Linked DNA regions of Homo sapiens: region 1 is linked to region 2. Evidence: fine-mapped expression QTL. A gene starts in region 2. The other region holds a variant in brackets. All regions are shown on one strand. Distances are from middle to middle.

Region 1 (2,911 bases), 41 kb before region 2:
AGGGCAGGATTCCCTACCCTCAGACTGTGGAAGACACAAGCTTGGGGCTTGGGGAGTAAGCACAATGCTCCTGTGGGTAAAATCATGTTTTACCTCCAATACTCTTGGTTAGTTGAGAACCGTTAGTCTGGCAGTGGGGGTGGGGGCAGAGGGTGACTACTATTTACAACCGAGAGATGAAAGCAATCATCTCCATGAAATCACACAGAAGGCTCAGGGGCAAGAGAGCATCAGGTCTCATAGTCAGATGGACTCTGAGACTGGGGACCAGAGAAGATGGAATTATAAGATCAGAATGGACAGTGAACAAGTCAGGAACATCTGACGACTATACCCAGATGGAAACTTTCCTATGGTGAGACCCAGCTAGTGGCCTTCAGGTGGCATCCACATGGGATCAGGTAGCAGGGATCCTCCCAAACACACTGTCCATAAAAAACACAATTGCTCTGGGGCTCGACAGATTACAAGGACAGAGAGGGTGTAAAACTGCGCTTGCCATGGCTCCCGACAGCTTTCAAAGAAACACAAAAGCTCAAGCCCAGAGCCCAAGGTTTGCCAGGAGGTGGTGATGAATGAATCAATCAATTGATTAGAGCTGTGGAGGGCCAGGTCCCAGTGTAGGTCTCTAGCACAGCACGGGGGTGAGGGCATCCAGGTTGTCTGACACAAGCGTGACCTTCTCAGGCAGAGGACAGGGGTGGAGGCAGACTGTCTACAGATGTCCTTGGCAGACATGCAGCTTTACATCACAACCCTGCCTTCCCCATTGCCCCTCCTGCCCGCTCTTGGCTTTCCAATGTGCAACAGTTCTCCACAGAAATGCCCAATCAGAGTGTGCCCACATCATCTGGCAACAGTCTCTGTTCACTGCAATACCCTGCATGTCAGGGCAGAAAGGCAGGAATTGATCTTATGCATTGTGATAGTGGTCTGGACTTTCTAGACCAAGCAAGCACACTGTGACTGGACCAAAACGGCTTATAAAGTAGACTATATTGGTACAATGGTTTACGACCTAGACTAAATAGACATGATGGTATATAACCTAGACTAACCTAGACTCTGTTGGCATTATGGTATAAACTAGTCTTTGGCTAGTGTGGGTCAGTGCTCCCAGGCTGCCCCCCTAGGAAAATGTGGAAGAAGAGTTTTCTGGACCCTCCAGCCTGAATCTAGACTCTTGGACCCCCTCTTAGGGGCCCCAATGAAGGGTTAGCAGGAGACAGCAGAAAC[G/A]TACAGCTGGGAGGCAGACCAGGGAGATGGTATGGGCAAGGTGCTTTGCTCTCCTCCGTGATGCTGGAGGTTTGGTCATGGCATTCAAGGACTTTCATGAGCTCTGAGAAGAGAAAGAACAGCCCTAGGCCCTTGGGCTTAAGGGGTCCTGGCAGGGGCAACTGCCCCCATAACCAGGAACCTCAGAGGCCAAGGCACAGAAGACCCTCTGCCTCCTCCGTGGGCCTAAGAAGAAGCAGTTTTTCTCTCCATCCATCCTGCCACCCAGCAAGCCCACCTACTCACCCACTGCACCCTCTGTTACCTGTGTCCCCTTTGCTTCCTTTCAGGCCTGTGGCTCCTGGACTCCCGGGGCTCCCTGGAAGTCCTGGACAACAGACACCACAGAGAGCATAAGGGCTGGACTAGGCAGGTTTTCACACATCACTCCCTGTGCCCACCATAGGACCCAGGACCTCACCTGCTCGCCCAGGGGAGCCAGCACTGCCAGGCTCACCCTTGGCACCTGGGTGTCCCACTGCACCAGGAGGGCCCGGAACACCCTGCAGTCCAGGTTGTCCTGAAAGGAAAGTAGTGACTGCCAGGCTGTGGTGGTTGGCAGAGGGCCCAGATACCCCAACCCCCAGTGCTTCTGTTTTCAGCAGTGAGACATGTACCTCTTAACACCTTACAGTCCTCTTGGCAGCTTTAACACCTCTCTTTAGAAGCCATGAGCTAGCCCTCTTAGTAGGAGGAAAATTATTCTCAGCAACTTACTAATCTTTTCCATCTGCAGGGCCTGGGACTTATGGACTTACTAGGAGCTCTGGGTGTGACTGTCCAACTCCACCCCCTGGGTGGCAAAGTGGGGTAAAGTCTAGAGAGAAACATCAGTGAGGCCTGCCCCCACCGCCCACTGGCTGCTCTGTTCCTCTTGGCCAGGGCCAGATGTCTAAAAAACCCCAGGTGTTCTGGGTGAATACTACAATGAAGCAAAAGATGGTGGTGTCTGGTCCCCAGCTTCACTCTGCCAGGGACAGTCGTAGCTGGGATGATGCCCAGATTCCTGTAGTTCTTACCTTGATCTCCTTTAGCTCCAGGAAAACCAGCCAAACCTAAGATGAAAAAGAACTTTTAGGAATTTTTTTTTCCTTTGGCTCAGCCAGCCAGAAAAAAAAAAAAAAGGAAATACCTAGAGGTCAGTGGATGTGACCACGTGCCCTCTTACCTGGTGGGCCTGGCCTCCCGAAGTCACCTTTACTCCCCTGGGCTCCAGGAGGCCCCATGACCCCTGCATCTCCTTTCATGCCCCTGTCCCCTTTGCTTCCTGAAAAACCAAAAAGTCTTGGTTAGTTGTGGGAGGAACTCCAATCAGGCCACCATGTCCTCCTCTGACACTTCCCATTCCACTGAAATCCCAAACCCTAAACTCCTTGAGCTCCTACTTGGTGCCCGCGAGTGGAAGATATGACCGCTGCCCTCAAGGAGTGCACCGCTTTGCCCCAGAGACAAGAAAGAAACTCATGAAAATTTGGTGAGGTGATCTGGTATGGCTGACAGTCAACAGAAAGCCCTGGTCCCCTTGGGAGGGACAATAGCCAAGGCTCAGCCAGCACTGTCTGGCTTGTTTTAGTGTCTGCATTTTGGCAATTATTTGAATTCACTTCAAAAATTGAAACCTGAGTATTCCGAAAAG
Region 2 (2,911 bases):
AAATTCCTAGAGGCAGAGCCCCAGACGCTTCATCTTTGTGCGCTGAAAATTCCAGGCAGGGACCTGGGCAGACAGGTGTGGGATGAGAAGGACACTCTGGCCAGGAGATAAAGCCACCAATTTTCCTGCATAGACAACTTCCAGCAAAGCCTGGGAGTGGAAATGACTGATCAACTTGGAAGATGATCCCAAGAGAACGTTCTAGACTAGGAAATCAGAGCTCATTTGTGGAATGCAAGCCCACCCATGACTTCAAATGCTACAAATTCTAGAAGATTTTAAAAATGCATCACCTGTTGAATGCTGAGTGAGAAAATAAAGACAACAGAGTTGACTGAATATTACAGACCTGAGTTTAACCTAAGACAAACTAATTATGAAGCTATGAACATATTTCAGTCAACATGAAATACAGAATATGTTTCCTGACCAGCACATCAGTTATAACAGAAATCCCCTTAAAGAATTTTAAAGAAGCTGTGTTTTGAAAACTGTCATGCTTGGCTTCAGTTTTGTGGTCCCCTTTCAGTGCCCCTGTTTTGCGTTTTCATTGTATCACCCAACCTGTGTGTCAGAATAAGACATTCATTAAAAAAAGGGGACATTTAATAAGCATTGGCATTTTTTCAAGGGAAAATATTTAAATATGATTAAAACAATAGTGAAGCTAAGAAAAACCTGACTATATGCTAAAAATACAGCATCTATTATTAGCATTCCAGAAATTCCAAATTGAAGCACTCCAGACAGTATTAGTGATGATTACGTGCAAAATGCAGCAATAAGCCAAACCTAGACTTTCTATTGACTTGTCTATTTTCGTATCTCGCTAGCAGAAAGACTACATTTCTGGTCATTTCCATTATTGGGGAATCGTACTTTACCATTGATTTCGAAAGGCTCCATTGCAATTTGGTGAAAAGCAGCTTGTTGGGTCTCACTCAAGAGCTCGTCCTCCTTGAGAATTTTCTTATTTCTCATTGCCAAGCTTTATAGATGGCCAAAGTCCTGGAGCCAGCAGAAATGCTCCCCTCAAGAGGAACCACTTGGAGAAAGATCCTTCCCATCGAACCACTGCAGCTGGTTGTAAACCTCGCAGCACTTCCCTTTGGCTCTGATTTCAGAATTTGCAGGATGTTTCCTGACATGATCAGGATTGGACATTTCTCAAACACGGGCTATTCACATGTGGATCTCCCACACAGTGCTGCTGCTTGTTAAGGGGGATCGAGGAGGCTTTGGGACACAAGTTACGGGCCTCTGAATGCACCCGTCACTCCCAGGTCCCTGAGACCCAAAAGCTGGATGGCTCCAGAGAGGGCCAACCAAGCCCTGCCATGGGCCCAGACTCAGCTCTCTGTCCCAGGACCTCTCCAGCCCACAGTGAAATCTCCCTTCTCTGACCTGCCTCAACCTTTAGAGTTCATCCTTGCTGCTCAAAGTGTGGTCCATGGACCAGCAGTATTAGTATCACCTGAGAACTTGTTAGAAATGCAAGTTCACTTGTTCTAACAATGAGTCTCTGGTCCCACCCCATCAGATCAAATCCAAATCTACAGTTTAACTAGATCCCCAGGTGATTTATATACACATTACAGTTTGAGAAGCCTTGCTCTGAACCACACATTTTAGCACTTAGTATTTCTTCTTGTAGTTTTCCCATGTTCTCTCTCTGTGTGTGTACACATGTGTGCACATGTGTACATGTGTTACAGGTGTCCTTGTCCAGGCCCCAGTGAGATCTGAGCTCCTTAAGGAAAGTAGCTTCTCCCCTCTCTCCCTCCCGTCAGGCATCTCTACCAGGGATGCTGTATAGCATGGTGGTTAAGACACAGACACTAAGAGCTAGAATGCCTGGCTTCAAATTCCACCTCTTCCACATAGGGGCTGTCTGGCAGTAGGCAAATCACTTGAGCTTTGAGCATCTCACTCTTCTGTTTGTATAAATAAGGAAGATATGAATTTCGTGAGCCTTAAATGAATTAAATCATATAAGGTGGCTAGGATGGAAGTATTAGGTAATAAACACTATGGTCATGTTGTTGTTATTATCATTAGAGACATTGTGAGCCTGCTGGGCACCGAGGAGATGAAGAAATGGCCTTTTTTCATGAAAGATATTCACAGTCTACCATGCAAGATGGTTGCGGCTACAACTACATTCCAGAAAATTGCTGTGAAGTGCGGCAAAGGTTGATGTCCCTGAAAAGACAGAAGTGCCGGGAGGCAGGGGAGACAGGGCAGAAATATGACAAATAGCTTTATCATCTGAATCAAGAGATATCAGATACCAGAGCTGGGCTTAAAAGGATAATGGGGGATTGATCCAGATCAAGATGAGGCAAAGGCCCTCCAGGGAGGAAGGAGGGCAGGTGCAGCCTCTCAGAGGTGGGACAGCCTGGAGCAGGGGAGCCGTAGACTTTTGGCCTATTTGAAATGTAAGAGGTGAGGAAGACAGGTGGCAGGAAGTGAAGCTGTGCCAGGCGAAGTCACTTTCTTTGGCCCGTGGTATGTCAGAAAGTGAAAGGGGATGAAACTCAGGAAAGTGAGCTCCTAGCAGTGCCCTGAAAAGCAGAGGTCCCCCGTGGCGCCCACAATTTCAACATTCAGGAAGTCACTGGTTCCGCCAGAGGACAAGCAGCAGAAGCCAGGACAGAAAAATTTAAAGAGGAAAATTGGAAATGAGGAAGTGATGGCTCCAGCTAGAGTCTGGGGGGTAGACAGGACCAGATAATTGAGGACACAGGGGATTTGCCCACTGGAGGGCAGTCCCCTAGGCAAAGGAACCCGCTCACTTAGCCTGGCAGAGCTCCCTGCTCTCCCTCTGCCTCTGCCTGGTCAGCTCATCTTTGATTCTCATGGGTGTGGGGAGGGGACTTATTAGAAAATGTCATGGGCTAATTATTGAGGA

The links. PIP is the estimated chance that this variant, and not a neighbour inherited with it, causes the effect.
Region 1: its variant is fine-mapped to the expression of MARCO in whole blood (TOPMed, PIP above 0.99).

What each region holds. Positions count from the first base shown.
Region 1 is chr2:118,981,040-118,983,950 of GRCh38, reverse strand. MARCO (macrophage receptor with collagenous structure) reads right to left here. Exons shown (of 17, transcript NM_006770.4): 9 at 2,444-2,542; 10 at 2,295-2,330; 11 at 1,697-1,795; 12 at 1,541-1,603. Among named protein-coding and RNA genes, the nearest start is that of MARCO, 40 kb to the right of the region's middle. The variant G/A (reference allele first, on the strand shown) is at 1,237.
Region 2 is chr2:118,940,371-118,943,281 of GRCh38, reverse strand. It overlaps MARCO (macrophage receptor with collagenous structure), which reads right to left and starts at 1,088. Exons shown (of 17, transcript NM_006770.4): 1 at 885-1,088. The coding sequence starts at 981.